4 linked regions of the Homo sapiens genome follow. The protein of the gene in region 3 interacts with the protein of the main gene of each other region in a biochemical or structural test. Each region holds a gene or a part of one and is shown on either strand. Other genes may lie near its edges.

Region 1 (3,500 bases), about 15 Mb from region 3:
GTAGCTGTGACTACAGGTGTGCGCCACCATTACTGGCTAACTTTTTAAAAATTGTTTTAGAGACAGGTTCTTGCTATTCTGTCCAGGCTGGTCTCAAACTCCTGGCCCCAAGCAATCCTCCTGCCTCAGCCTCCTGAGTAGCTAGGATTACAGGCACCACCACTGCACCTGGCATATGAAAATATTTATGTACATATTCTTTGGGCAATTCCATTATAAGACATCTATAGGTACATTCACATAATATACATGGCTAATCCTTGCAGCATTGTTTATAATAGCAAGTCTATAAATATAAAAGTCCTTACTAGAGAATAGTAAAACTGGCCAGGTGCAGCGGCTCAGGCCTCTAATTCCAGCACTTTGGGAGGCCAAGGCGGGAGGACTGCTTGAGTCCAGGAGTTTGAGACCAGCCTAGACAACACAGTGAGACTCTGACTCTACAAAAAAATTTTTTAAAAGTAGCTAGGCAGTGGTGCACACCTGTGATACCAGCTACTTGGGAGGCTGAGGTGGGAGGATCACTTGAGCCTAGAAGTCAAGGCTGCATGAGCCAAGATTCGTGCTACTGTGCTCCAGCCTGGGTGGAGGGAGATTATGTCTCAAAAAATAAAAAAAATAAAAAAAAATAAAATGCTGGGCATGGTGGCTCACAACTGTAATCCCAACATTTTGGGAGGCTGAGGCAGGCAGATCACTTGAGGTCAGAAGTTCGAGACTAGCCTGGCCAACATGGTGAAACCCCATCTCCACTAAAAATACAAAACTTTGCCGGCGTAGTGGCGCACCTGTAATCCCAGCTACTCAGGAGGCTGAGGCAGGAGAATCGCTTGAATCCAGGAAGCGGAGGTTGCAGTGAGCCGAGATCACGCCATTGCAGCACTCCAGCCTGCGCGAAAGGGCGAGACTCTGTCTCAAAAAAAAAAGCTAAATTATACAACTGAGCAGTTGTATAATTAAAAGTAAAAAGAATGAAGTAGATTTGTATACACTGACCTGGAAAGATTCTATACTATATTGTTAAGTGAAAAAATAGGTTGCAGGATAGTTTATAATTTTGCTAAAATTTAAAAACCTATATCTATATATGTGCATGAATATATTACATGTACGTTGTGTACAATATTTGCATATGTGTAGGAAAAATATATGCTCTGGGGAGGAGACTGGAATTTTAGAAGGGTCAAATAGACTTGTGTTTCATCCATATTTTAATTTTTTTTCTTTTTTTTTAAATAACAGAGATGGGGTCTCACCATGTTGGTCAGGCTGATCTTGAACTCCTGGCTTCAAGTGGTCCACCCACCTTGGCCTCCAAAGTACTGGATTATAGGCATGGGCCACCGCACTCGGGCTATATTTTAATTTTTTATAAGAACATTCATCTGGTAAATGTGTATTTGCTTACACCTAGGAGCTTCAGGGAGTGGAATTATCTATCATTTTTCTTCTACTTTTATTTCATCTTTTTTTTTTTTTTTTTTGAGACAGGGTCCCACTGTGTCCTCCAGGCTAGAGTGTGGTGCGATCTCGGCTCACTGCAGCCTCAACCTCCTGGGACTCAAGCGATCCTTCCCACCGCAGCCTCCTGAGTAGCTGGGACTACAGGCACTCGCCACCACACCCAGCTAACTTCTGTATTTTTTGTAGAGACAGGGTCTTGCCATGTTGCCCAGCCTGGTCTCAAATTCCTGGGCTCAAGCAATCTGCCTATCTCAGCCTCCCAAAGTCCTGGGATTACAGGTGTGAACCACTGTGTCCGGCCTACTACAGAAATTTTTTAAATATTTATATAAGATGATATTTTATAAAACATATATTAAACTATAAACATATATAGTGCCTAAAATATATATAACAAGCTTTTAAAAAGCAGTCTGGCCAGGCGCAGTGGCTCACACCTGTAATCCCAGCACTTTGGGAGGCCGAGGCAGGTGGATGACGAGGTCAGGAGTTCAAGACCAGCCTGGCCAAGATGGTGAAACCCTGTCTCTACTAAAAATACAAAAAAGTAGCCGGGCGTGGTGGCGGGCGCCTGTAATCCCAGCTGCTCGGGAGGCTGAGGCAGAGAATTGCTTGAACCCCGGAGGCGGAGGTTGCAGTGAGCCAAGATTGCGCCACTGCACTCCAGCCTGGGTGACAGAGCGAGACTCCTTCTCAAAAAAAACAGCAGTCTGGAAAAATTCGATCCAAAAATTTATCAGTGGTCATCTCTGGAGAGTAGGGGAGAAGAAGGGTAACACTTTAGTAACGCTTTAGCTTTCTACCTAATGATTCAACTTTTTTCCAGACTAAAAAAAAATGGACAAACTAGTAGGCAATCCACCAGCAGTAAAGCTGCAAACAGGGTAATGGTCAGTTTAAGGATTGCCTTCATGTCTTGAAAAAGTTTCAGTGGCTTGGGGGACTTGGTTAAAATAGAGTTCACTGGTGTCTTGTGGCTGTAAGTGGGGACACATTTAAATGGGTCACCTAGCAGCTGGCAAAAGAAAAAAAAAACCCAGGAAATGGAAACTATAACGTTAGAGTCCCAAGACAAGGGTGCCCAGAGTTGGCTGTGGTGGATAGATACTTAGGTCAGTCCTCCCACCCCCACCCCCAGACCACACTCATAAATAAATACAAAGGAAATACTTTCCCGAGAGAGCCGGCCTCTCTCCCTTGGCCTCTGACCTCCCTGAGCGGCCGTTTCCTCCAGCCCCGGGACCCCGGCTCTCTCCCCGCGCTCTGCCCCTCGCCAAGGGTTGTAGCAGCGGCCGGAGGGGTAGCCAGCACCTGGCCTGGCCCCGTGCTCCAGGGGGAGCCTCCTCCCGGCCGGCTGTGCTGAGCTCCGCAGCGCCGGGTGACTCCCTGCCAGGTCACACGGAGCTTATCTGGCTCCAGGTGTGCTCCCTCACGCCGACTGCACGCTTCTCACGTGACATTAGCCAGCCCTCACGCCGCCGCGCGGGGAGCCGGGCGGCCCTTGGCGTTTCCCCGCGGCTGGGCCGGCGCAGCCGCAGCCCCGCGGCGCCTCCCGCTGCGATCCCATCTCCCCCGGAAGGCAGCAATCCCGCGGGCCATGGAGGAACGCGAGCGGGAGAGCTCCTGCGGCCTCGCCAGGTTCCCTGCTGCTCTTCCAGGTGCACCGCCTGGCGCTCAGTTCCGCTAACATCCCCTTCCGTGTGACCTTGAGCAAGTCCCCTCCCCTCTCTAAGCCTCCACTATTTCAGCTACAGTTATCTTCAAGGGCCTGACAGCTCAGATTTGGCCCTCAGCCTCTGCTGGAGAGCTATTCTGCTCAACCACACACTGCAGGTTGTAATCCCGCTCTGCCTCTGACTTGCTGTGTGACCTTCAGCCCATCATCCAACCTCTCTGAATATTAGAGAATAATCACAATAATCTCTTGTAAGTGATGATAAACTACTTGGCAGACAGAAAGGGCCCTGGGTCCTGTAAAATCATCAGTCTAACAACCAAAACTGCTGCCTGACTCTAAACTGTTTAAAATGTCAAGG
Region 2 (3,500 bases), on a different chromosome or scaffold from region 3:
CATGGGCGACAGAGCGAGACTCTGTCTCGAAATAATAATAATAATAATAATAATAATAAATAAAATAAAATAAAATAAAATAGAGGCCGGGCGTGGTGGCTCATGCCTGAAATCCCAGCACTCTGGGAGGCTGAGGCAGGAGGATCACAAGGTCAAGAGATCGAGACCATCCTGGCCAACCCGGTGAAACTCTGTCTCTACTAAAAATACAAAAATTAGCTGGGCATGGTGGTGCGCGCCTGTAGTCCCAGCTGAGGCCAAGGCAGGAGAATTGCTTGAACCTGGGAGGCAGAGGTTGCAGTGAGCCAAGATCGCACCACTGCACTCCGGCCTGGTGACAGAGCGAGACTCCATCTCAAAAAAAAAAAAAAAAAAAAAAAAAAAAAAAAAAAAAAAACAACCACCACCACCCATGCTTTAAGAACATGCATTTCTGTTGCACTATAAAATATAGGAGATAGGTCTTGCCACTGAGCTTAGAAAAAGAAAAAAAAAAAAAAAGACAGAATATGAGAGACGGGAAAATAAAGTGACTTAGGAATCCCAATTACTGCTTCATGAACCCTGTGAGGACCCTCTTGGTCTGAGGATTACCAGCAGGAAACCAGAATGTGCTGCTTGTCCTCTGAGTTTGAGGCTGAAGTCTCTGTCCTTCACCGGCAAGATGGGCCACCGAACCATCTACTTTCCCTTGGTATTTATGACTGTGAGTACCTTTGAATGAGGGCCAGAGGGGGTTGAGGGTCTAGGTGCCAATGGAGGGGCATGAAAAGGATCCAGCCTTGGCCCCTTCTTTAATCCTTAGGCGGGAGGAAAGTGGAAAACCAGCTCTCCACAGTAACACTGACCCACAGCACTGGGGGCAAAGCCCTCCCAGCCCCCGACACCCCACTCCCTCTCCCGCGGTCCTCACCATGTTCGGCTCGCCATTGTCTGCTGCAGAGGTTTTGCGGGCTGGTTTGTTCTGTGGCCCAGTTGAAACTGCTATGAGAAAACAAAAGCTGAAGTCACTGCTGCCTGGTGCAAGGCCTAGAGGAGGGCACAGGTGGAGGTGGGGGTCAGGCCTGGCTCAGGCTTAAACAGGGGAGGACACTTCCCAGCCCAAGCCAAGGGATAATTTTAAGAAACAGACAGCAGGAGGGGCTCAGGCACCAGAGAAGACCCTCATCTGCTTGCAGGCAAGACAGCAGCCAAGGGGCTTCCAGGCAAGACAGCAGGCGAGGGTGGGGACAGACAGGAAGGCTGCTGCATCCCAGAGCATGTGGGAAATGGAGGCGGGCTGGGGTCTCAGCAGGGATGGTGTCAATAAACATCAGAGATGTTGGACCTGGATGAACACGCTGAGCAAGAGGGAGGACTCCTGGGGGGCACTGCGGGCTCCCCAAATGGGCAGAGTCAGGTCCACGGCTGGAGAAAGAGCCACAGCATGTCTGGCTTTACTCTGAGACTCATCAGAGGTGAGGAGGCTTTCAAGGTCATCTGATCCAACCCCTTCTTTGTAAAGAAGCCCAGAGAGGGACAGTGATCTTCGGAAGGCCATACGGGAGGTCAGCAGCAAGAGCGGAAGTGGAACCAGGCCTGAAACTCTGAACTGTGGGTTTTGATCCATGGTCCTCCCACTCACTGCTGTGACTGTGACTTTGGACCCTCTGAGATTGTGTCCTCCTATGTGAAATGGGTAGAAAACCTGTCTTCTCAGGGCTGTCGTAAGGATGAACCAGTGACAATGCTGATTAGGATAACAATGACATGCAGCGAGCATCACTATGTGCCAGGCACTGCTGTAAGGGTTTTCTGTGTATTAACACATTTCTGGTTTTTGTTTTTTCGGGGTTTGTTTTGAGACAGGGTCGCACTTTGTTACCCAGGCTGGAGTGCAGTGGCACGATCTTGGCTCACTGCAGCCTTGACTTCCCAGGCTCAAGCGATCCTCTCGCCTCAGCCCCCATAGTAGCTGGGACTACAGGTACATGCTGCCATGCCTGGCTAATTTTTCTATTTTTTTTTTTTAGAGACAGGGTTTCACCATGTTGGCCAGGCTGGTCTCGAACTCCTGGACTCAAGCAATCTGCCAGCCTTAGCCTCCCAAAGTGCTGGGATTACAGGCGTGAGCCACCATACCTGGCCTATTAACACATTTCAAACCTTACAGCAACTTTAAGAAAGGTGCTGTTATTCATCCCCATTTCACAGATGAAGACACCGAGTCCCAAAAAGGGCACACAGGGAACGGTGCTGCCAGAATTCCAACCCACATCTGTCTGCCTCCAGAACACACCACTTTCTCAGAGTCCTGACGCATCAGGTACCCAGGGTCACGTGTCTTCTACACCCACAGCCTGCAAGGAGAGGCCCACACTCCCTGCCAGTCTGCAGGATGGTAAGCCGTGAAGGAGGGAGGGGAGGGCAAGGGCCAGCCAAGCTCCTGACCTACTGGGAGGCTGGTTTTTGTGATGACGGGATGTGGGATCTTCCAGAAGCCGTTATCTTCGTCCCAGCAGGACTCACGCAGAATCTTCTCCAGGTTGCTGTAGTTACAGTCCCTGCGAATCAGGGGCTGCACCTGCTCCAGGAGCTGCTGCAAGAGCATGGAGTCACGCTCCTGCCGGCGGATGGTGGCCAAGTAATCGATCTTCTCCAGCTGAAACTCGGACTGCAGATCTTTGATCTCCACCTCTGCTGCCCGAAGCTGAAAGCAAAGGATGACAAGCAGTGAGCAGGGAAAGATACCTCCCCTTCCATCTAACCACCCTGTCCACTCACTGTCCTGCCAGCAGCCACGCATCGTCTGTTCATTGGCCTGATCAGCCATCCATTCTCATCCCCACCATCCATCCAGCCATCCTTCCCTCCATCCATCCATCCACCTCCTCTCACACCCACTGATCCTTCCGTCTATCCAATCACCCTGCTGTCTCTCCACCCAGCATTTAAATGAGCACCTAATGTGTCCCCCCAGCCCTGCAAAATGTAGGGGAAAAGTTGATCAGCAATCCCAACAGCCAGCCCCTCAGTCACTATCTCCCATTGTACATTTTATTCAGGAGCCTTTGAGAAGTCCCCACATCCAACACCACCGTTCTAAAGGATATCAGAGAATTGCACAAGTGACATCTCTAAGGAGGACAACAGGCACAAACTCTCCGACTTGACAATCCTCACTCTCCCACTGCCACAGCCCTGTGTGACGGTGTGACAAACACTGGACCTAAACAATGGACCTAAGAGTAAGACCCACCTTGATCTGATCAAGGGTTCCAGATTCTTTTGGTCTCCTGCTCAAGTCTGCCAGACCGGTCCCCCGGTCCCTCCTGAGCACAGGTGACTGCCAGCCCCAGCCATAACCACCCTCTCCCTGAGCCCCAAGACTACCTGGTGCACAGTCTGTTTCCTCAAAGAGCAGGTACAGTCTGATTAGTAAAGAAGGATGTTTGAGGCAGGGCGTGGTGGCTCACACCTGTAATCCCAGCACTTTGGAAGGCCGAAGCGGGCGGATCACT
Region 3 (3,500 bases):
ATGCCCTCTGACCTCTGCTCTCAGTCCCCTCTCCAGGCCCTGTTTCCTTTACAATAGTCCCTCAGTCTAAGGAAGTCCCCAAGAACGACTCAGCCCTCCACCGGGAGGCAGCCTCACTTGGGCATGGGGCAAATACCTCAAGCCTCAGACGCCTCCCCCTACCCACCCTTGGTCAGCCACTGGGAGGCAGGGTACGTGGGGGAGGTGGCATCGCTGTGGGTAGGGATGGTGCCCCAGCCCTGCTTACCCCTCGCCTCACAGCAGCTTCTTCCCCTCCCCCATCTCCCATGAGTTCTTCCTCTTAATGAAGGGGATGATGCCCAGGAAGCAAGTCAGGCATCTTGGAACTCAGTTCCCCAGAAAGGAAAAATGAGGGCACATTTGCACACAGGGAAAAGTGTGGGCAGAAGGGAAGGACTCAGCTCCGCTCCGGTGACCCCATTCCTCTGAGATCTTGTGCCCAAGAGGCCACCATCAGGGTACTGCAGCCTCCACTCAGACATTCCCTGAGGAGTGGCACCAGGTCGCATTGCACCCCTGGTTGCCATGACAGTAGAATTACACACCAGGACAGTAACCCAGGGATGGAGGAGAGATTTAAAGGGACAGCTCCACCTGAAAGCAGCCACATATCCCAGCCTTGATCCAAAAAAGGGAGGGAATCTGGTGACAGGGGAAGAGGGAGCAAGGCTGCAGGTCAGGAGATGCCAGGTTCAGGATCTCTAAGTTCTCAGCCCAGTGCCACTGTCCATTTATCTCCCAAGTCTCAGGAAAAGGGCCCCTGACTCTACCCAAAGTAGATATGGGGTCTCCCTGCAAGAGGAATACACCCATACCCTTTCCCTCCCTTCAACCATACTGACCCATGGGGAAGGGCGGAAAAAGGATCTTATTAGCTTTGCCCTTTGCAGAGTCCAAGGCAGGGATCTCCCAGGGGAGGAGGAGGGAAGGGGAGCCTGAACTCAGAGGCAGGGACACAGCTGTCTCTCTATCCTGTGGGAAGTATAATGACCACCAGATAATAAGGGGCAGAATCCACCATTAGATTTTTGAAGCTGGGAGCTAATGTAGCTCAGGATAGGACAGAGGCTGCCTGAAGGAAGAAAAACACTTTGTACTTCTTCCTTTGAATATGAGAAGCCAGGAGCAGCCCCTCGAACAACATGAAGGGGAGCAGGAGCCCCAGGAGTCCTTTGAGGAAGCAGAACCCACCGCCACACCCCAAGGCTCCACTCCCTGTCCCCCATCCTCCCCCACCACGCCCCCATCAAGTGGTCTGCAACAACGAAGCCAAATTGCTGGGCTTGCTCCTCCTCCTACGCCCCAGTCAGGCACTATTGGTGGGTTTACTGGGCAGTCCCGGCTGGAGAGGCCATTAAGCACAGGCTCAGGGGTGGGTTTAATTAATGCCTAAGCAGCTTACAGTGGGGCCTAGGCAGGCTGAAAGAGGCAGGGAGACCCCAGGGAGCCCAGCAGGCTGGACAGGAGATGGGGGACTGAGCCCTCTGATGCTGCAGAAGCTGGGGACATTGGTGCCATCCCTCCACTGCAAGGAGAAGAGGCCTTTCCTGGACAAGTGTACCACAGTTTAGGCCCTGGCTCACTCCCTTCACTTTCTCGGAGAGGAGGCACAGAGGAATCATTCTACCCAAAGTGGCAGCCCTGGAACCTCTGGCAGAGGCAGTAGTGGGGCCTAGAGCAAGGGAAGGAGCTGCATGGGAGGGAGGCATCCAGGCAGGGGGAAGTTCAGACAACTCAGAGCAGAACCATAGCAGTTCCCAGCTGCCCGGGCCTCAGAGGGCCTCTAGCACAGGGAACTTAACCTTCTGGGGTCCTGCGTGCACTACGGGAATCCATGATCCCCTAGAGTAGAATATACCTTTTGTGCATGGATGTATATGTCTACGATGAGGGCTCACTGCTGTCACCAGATTCTAAGTGACTCAGGACCAATAAAATTAAGAACAGGCCAGGTGTGGTGGCTCATGCCTGTAATCCCAGCACTTTGGGAGGCCAAGGCAGGTGGATCACCTGAGGTCAGGACAGCCTGGCCAACATGGTGAAACCCAGTCTCTACAAAAATACAAAAATTAGCTGGGCATGATAGCAGGTGCCTGTAATCCCAGCTACTTGGGAGGCTGAGGCAGGAGAATCACTTGAACCTGGGAGGTGAAGGTTGCAGTGAGCCGAGATCCCACCACTGCCCTCCAGCCTGGGCAACAGAGGGAGACTCCATCTCAAAAAAAAAAAAAAAGAAAAAGAAAAAAGTTAAGAACACTGATCTTGTCCCATCATCTCATCTTAGGGAAATCTCAGGTCTTCAAAAGGAGGTGACTGTTTCAAGGACACAGGGTTAATGCCAAAATAACAACTCAGGCCAGGCACAGTGGTTCACACCTGTAATCCCAGTAGTTTGGGAGGTCGAGGCGGGTGGAGTACTTGAGCTCAGGAGTTTGAGACCAGCATGGGCAACATTTTTGTCTTTACGAAAAATACAAAAATTAGCTGGGCATGGTGGTGCACACCTGTAGTCCCAGCTACTTGGGAGGCTGAGGTGGGAGAATGACTTGAGGCTGGTAGGCAGAGGTTGCAGTGAGCCAAGCTTGCGCCACTGCACTCCAGCCTAGGCTAAAGAGCCAGAACTTGTCTCAAAAACAACAACAACAACTTGGTGGCAGCGGCAGCAACAGCAGCATAATAATTATGACTATTCCTAAAAGTAATGTGCTCTCCCATTACAGCCTTTGCGTCTCACAGCAGCCTCTTTACAGAAGAAGAAATGCGAGCTCCAAGAGGTTAAGCAGTTTGCCACTGAGGCTTTGCTAGTTTGTCTGAGTGGCCCACTCCCTTGTCCTAATGCCTCCTACAGAGCCACGTCCAGGTATCCTAACCTGGTATTCTTGTTCCTTCACTCACAGCTTCCTGGTCCCCAGTACCCCCTGTCCACCTCTGGCACATGCTGGCCTAGTGGGCAGCGATTATGGACTTCTCAGCCCCAGGCTGTGCTGCTGTAATCCCTCCACCCCCAAGCCATTCTCCAAGGCCCAGCTCCGGGGCCACCTCCTGAAGGCCTGGTCCTATGCCACTGCCCTCCAGCAATAGTACGGGTCACCTCTGGAGCATGCATCCCCTGCCCTCCACGGAGGTGAGTTGTGCTCCAGCCCTACACTGGAGCAGGTATGGGTCTTATTCTTTCTCTTCTCCGTTCCAGCACAGGAACCCACACAGAGGAGATGGCCACAGCAGCTGCCAGAAGGAATGGCTGAGTGGTAGGGTGGACAGCAGTGGAGCCAGTTGGTTCTTATCTGGAGCTGTGCAAGTGCCCACCCCTAAGTCCTCGCCTGGCACCCTCTGAACCACTGAAATAAGCTAACATCCTCACCCCCTTCTTACCAGTTTCAGAGTTGGTGGCGGCAACCGGCATGGTGAAGGAGGCAAGGGCTCTGAAACGTCTCTCCTGGAGAGGGGAGAGAGGAGGATGAGCAGATACAAGGGCAAAG
Region 4 (4,248 bases), on a different chromosome or scaffold from region 3:
GATCCCTTCCCGACACATCCAGGAGCCTTGGTTCTCTCCTTCCTCCAACTCTCTGAGAGTGAATGCTGCTGAGAACCACTGTGGTTTTAAAATACTCCGTGCAATACAAAGAACTCTCAGATGCATCCTGTGGTTTGAGAGCACCTTTATGTGTCATTCTCATCATTAACCTCAATGAATGCATACTAATGATCTAATATGCACCAGAAGCTACACAAAAACACTTTGTAGTTGTTAGCCAATTCATTTTGGCTACAGCCAGCCAGAAAAGAGGAAACTGAGGCACAGAGAAGCAAATGTCAACCCTACCTGGAAGTGTCAGTCTGAAAAGATCAGTTGAGTCTTCCTCTACCAGACCCCAACTTGTCTGGTCTCGTGAAGAAAGACAGAAATGGATGGAAAACCATTCTTATCACCTTCTTGCTGGAGAGTTAGGGAAGAGTCAGCTGGTCCCTAACAACAAACTTTGCCCTACTCCAGTACTGCCAAAGGGGTCTTTGTTGTAACATGGCCTACAAGGAGAGGACATCTTTCTGGGAAAGCACCTAGAATGTGGCTGGCACATATTCAATGCCCAGTAAATGTAGCTATTATTTTTTCAATCAACACTCTTACATACCCCTTTTCCACTCACCCTCTTCTCCCTTTTTTTGGTCACCCAATAAGCAGAAATTCCAGATGCATCCTTCGGGGTGGTTGGGAGCAAAGGATCCCCAGGGTGCACTGTGCCCTGGGCTGAGGTATCTCTGAGGTGCTTCCATCTTCTGGGTCCTTCCTCACTGGGGTTGTTGCCTCAGGCTCTCAGGACTCCCCTGGAAATCTTCTGATGGGAAAGGCATTGATTGACTTGCCACCCTTTCTCTACCATCCCTTTGCAATTCTGGGAGAGTTGCAGCCCCGCCCTCCCAGGCTTGCAAAGGTAGACGGAGAATTATATTGGAATTTAAATCGGAAGCTCTCAAGGCATCTCAAAAATACTTTCTCTATTTTTTTTTTCCTGTAGATATTGGAGAGGTTGGCAAACGGGTCTTCCTGAAGACAGAAGAATGTATGATTTAATGTTTTCTTTAGATTTCTGTATGAGTGGATGCACAGTGCTCCGTATTGTGTGGTGGGGCGGGGTGTGTCTTCTTATTGATGAAATACACTGCGCAGGTCAACTCGGTAAATTGAAATGAGAAGAGCCGACTGCGGGGGTGGAGGGGGTGTGGTATTAGGGTGCCGGCGCTTGTGGAGGGGGGCGCGAATGTGAACGTGTGAAAGCGAGAGGCGTGCCAGGAGAGCGCGGGAAAGCTTACTGGTGAGGCAAGTGTGCGTCTATTTCCATGGCGCCCTGGCTCGCGGCAGCCCCTGGCTGGGCGAGGGGTGTGATGTGGGAGTGGGGTGGGAGGGGGCAGCAGGCGGGGCCTGCCACGTCACTTGGAGAGTGTGTGTTGGGAAGGAAGGGCAGAGCGGAGAGCCGAGCCGCTGCAGCTGCGGCGGCGGCAGCGAAGCCTTGAGCCGTGGGGAGGTGGGTCCCCGCGCTCGGGCGCCGGGGCAGCCCCGGGCCCTCTGCGAGGCCTGCGGCGCGGCTCCTAGGGAGGAGGTGGCGGCTGTGGCGGCCGGAACCGCGACCTTGGCCGGACCCAGCCCCGCGGTGGACGCAGGGCGGAGGCCGAGCCCCGCCAGGAGTCTTTGCCGAGCCGGAGGGAGGCGCATCTGGCGCTTCGGTACCAGCGGCAGCCGGGGGTCCGGAGCGGCTGGAGGAGCGCAGTGGGAACTGGGAAGAGCTAGCCCGGCTGGAGGGCGGACCTCTGCGTCCGGGAGCCGGGTCTCAGGCACCGCTGGGGGCGAAGCCACGCGTCTTTTCGGGCAGCCAATTTCACACGCGCCTGTGTGCGGTTCCGGGCATCCCAGTAAGCTCTAGCACCCGGGCGCGGGTAACGGGAAGCGCAGAACCAAATCCCCAGCGCCCAGGTCACCTCCCCAGACCCAGCCTTGCAGGGACCAGGGCTTTAGGGCTCACGGACCCAACGGCCAGGTCAGACCGCGAACCGGGAGGAGCGCGGGCCCCACCCTAAAGAGGGCGCAGCCGGGAGCTGGGGAGCGGGTGCCGCGCTCCAGAGATTGTGTCGTGGGCGCCGTCCTAGTGGCGGGGAGCGCACCTCCGAGGGGGCATGAGATCGGAGAAATCCCTTACGCTGGCGGCGCCGGGGGAGGTCCGTGGGCCGGAGGGAGAGCAACAGGATGCGGGAGACTTCCCGGAGGCCGGCGGGGGCGGGGGCTGCTGTAGTAGCGAGCGGCTGGTGATCAATATCTCCGGGCTGCGCTTTGAGACACAATTGCGCACCCTGTCGCTGTTTCCGGACACGCTGCTCGGAGACCCTGGCCGGCGAGTCCGCTTCTTCGACCCCCTGAGGAACGAGTACTTCTTCGACCGCAACCGGCCCAGCTTCGACGCCATCCTCTACTACTACCAGTCTGGGGGCCGCCTGCGGAGGCCGGTCAACGTGCCCCTGGACATTTTCCTGGAGGAGATCCGCTTCTACCAGCTGGGGGACGAGGCCCTGGCGGCCTTCCGGGAGGACGAGGGCTGCCTGCCCGAAGGTGGCGAGGACGAGAAGCCGCTGCCCTCCCAGCCCTTCCAGCGCCAGGTGTGGCTGCTCTTTGAGTACCCAGAGAGCTCTGGGCCGGCCAGGGGCATCGCCATCGTCTCCGTGTTGGTCATTCTCATCTCCATAGTCATCTTTTGCCTGGAGACCTTACCCCAGTTCCGTGTAGATGGTCGAGGTGGAAACAATGGTGGTGTGAGTCGAGTCTCCCCAGTTTCCAGGGGGAGTCAGGAGGAAGAGGAGGATGAAGACGATTCCTACACATTTCATCATGGCATCACCCCTGGGGAAATGGGGACCGGGGGCTCCTCCTCACTCAGTACTCTTGGGGGCTCCTTCTTTACAGACCCCTTCTTTCTGGTGGAGACGCTGTGCATTGTCTGGTTCACTTTTGAGCTCCTGGTGCGCTTCTCCGCCTGCCCTAGCAAGCCGGCCTTCTTCCGGAACATCATGAACATCATTGACTTGGTGGCTATCTTCCCCTACTTCATCACCCTGGGCACTGAGCTGGTGCAGCAGCAGGAGCAGCAACCAGCCAGTGGAGGAGGCGGCCAGAATGGGCAGCAGGCCATGTCCCTGGCCATCCTCCGAGTCATCCGCCTGGTCCGGGTGTTCCGCATCTTCAAGCTCTCCCGCCACTCCAAGGGGCTGCAGATCCTGGGCAAGACCTTGCAGGCCTCCATGAGGGAGCTGGGGCTGCTCATCTTCTTCCTCTTCATCGGGGTCATCCTCTTCTCCAGTGCCGTCTACTTCGCAGAGGCTGACGATGACGATTCGCTTTTTCCCAGCATCCCGGATGCCTTCTGGTGGGCAGTGGTTACAATGACCACGGTAGGTTACGGGGACATGTACCCCATGACTGTGGGGGGAAAGATCGTGGGCTCGCTGTGTGCCATCGCTGGGGTCCTCACCATTGCCCTGCCTGTGCCCGTCATCGTCTCCAACTTCAACTACTTCTACCACCGGGAGACGGAGCAGGAGGAGCAAGGCCAGTATACCCACGTCACTTGTGGGCAGCCTGCGCCGGACCTGAGGGCAACTGACAACGGACTTGGCAAGCCTGACTTCCCCGAGGCTAACCGGGAACGGAGACCCAGCTACCTTCCTACACCACATCGGGCCTATGCAGAGAAAAGAATGCTCACGGAGGTCTGACCCATGCAGGCAGGGCCTGCAGGAGGGGAGCACTGAGCTAACAGTCTCTTAGGCTTCCTTCTCATTTCCACTACTCACTCTAGCTTCAGTTGACTTCTTGACTCTCTCCCCTACACCCACTACCTGGCATCCAGGACCAAATACCTGGACTATCAACCTTGTTGCTTAATCCCTGCAGCATTCAAGGTTAATCCATCTAAGTGACATTTTTGAAATTCCAGCGGTGCCACCCAATCATGCCCAGCTTCTGTCATATGAATGAGATATACATTTATGTCTGACCTTCCCTCAAGACTGATTTTTCATGTCTGGGACTTACAATATCTCAAGGAACAGCAATGTCAACAGGATGGAAACCAGCCCTATCTGAGTCTTCGCTCCCTCCTTAGTGTTCTTTGCTTTGGGTCATGTGCGTTTCCTAGCTTCAGGCTACTTGGTAACTGGAAGAAGCTGGAGGACAGAAGCAGTACTCAACTTGCTGTTATTCCAGTGCCCTGTAACA

Evidence for each region. The genes of interacting proteins can lie anywhere in the genome.
Region 1: the proteins of MPP2 (region 3) and MYO18A interact in a test that uses a peptide from one of them, tested with the Homo sapiens proteins (one large-scale study listed by IntAct).
Region 2: the proteins of MPP2 (region 3) and KIF17 interact in a test that uses a peptide from one of them, tested with the Homo sapiens proteins (one large-scale study listed by IntAct).
Region 4: the proteins of MPP2 (region 3) and KCNA6 interact in a test that uses a peptide from one of them, tested with the Homo sapiens proteins (one large-scale study listed by IntAct).

The regions. Positions count from the first base shown.
Region 1 is NC_000017.11:29,173,899-29,177,398, forward strand, and holds part of MYO18A (unconventional myosin-XVIIIa), read right to left. Parts: intron 2,876-3,500; exon of another isoform or gene 2,674-2,875; intron 1-2,673.
Region 2 is NC_000001.11:20,669,508-20,673,007, forward strand, and holds part of KIF17 (kinesin-like protein KIF17), read right to left. Parts: intron 2,690-3,500; coding exon 2,431-2,689; intron 985-2,430; coding exon of another isoform or gene 982-984; coding exon 914-981; intron 1-913. UniProt on the Homo sapiens protein: Dendrite-specific motor protein which, in association with the Apba1-containing complex (LIN-10-LIN-2-LIN-7 complex), transports vesicles containing N-methyl-D-aspartate (NMDA) receptor subunit NR2B along microtubules.
Region 3 is NC_000017.11:43,901,037-43,904,536, forward strand, and holds part of MPP2 (MAGUK p55 subfamily member 2), read right to left. Parts: intron 3,458-3,500; coding exon of another isoform or gene 3,425-3,457; coding exon 3,394-3,424; intron 529-3,393; exon of another isoform or gene 248-528; intron 1-247. UniProt on the Homo sapiens protein: Postsynaptic MAGUK scaffold protein that links CADM1 cell adhesion molecules to core components of the postsynaptic density. In CA1 pyramidal neurons, required for synaptic KCNN2-containing channel function and long-term potentiation expression.
Region 4 is NC_000012.12:4,807,886-4,812,133, forward strand, and holds the start of KCNA6 (potassium voltage-gated channel subfamily A member 6), read left to right. Parts: upstream 1-1,448; 5' UTR 1,449-2,156; coding exon 2,157-3,746; 3' UTR 3,747-4,248. UniProt on the Homo sapiens protein: Voltage-gated potassium channel that mediates transmembrane potassium transport in excitable membranes. Forms tetrameric potassium-selective channels through which potassium ions pass in accordance with their electrochemical gradient.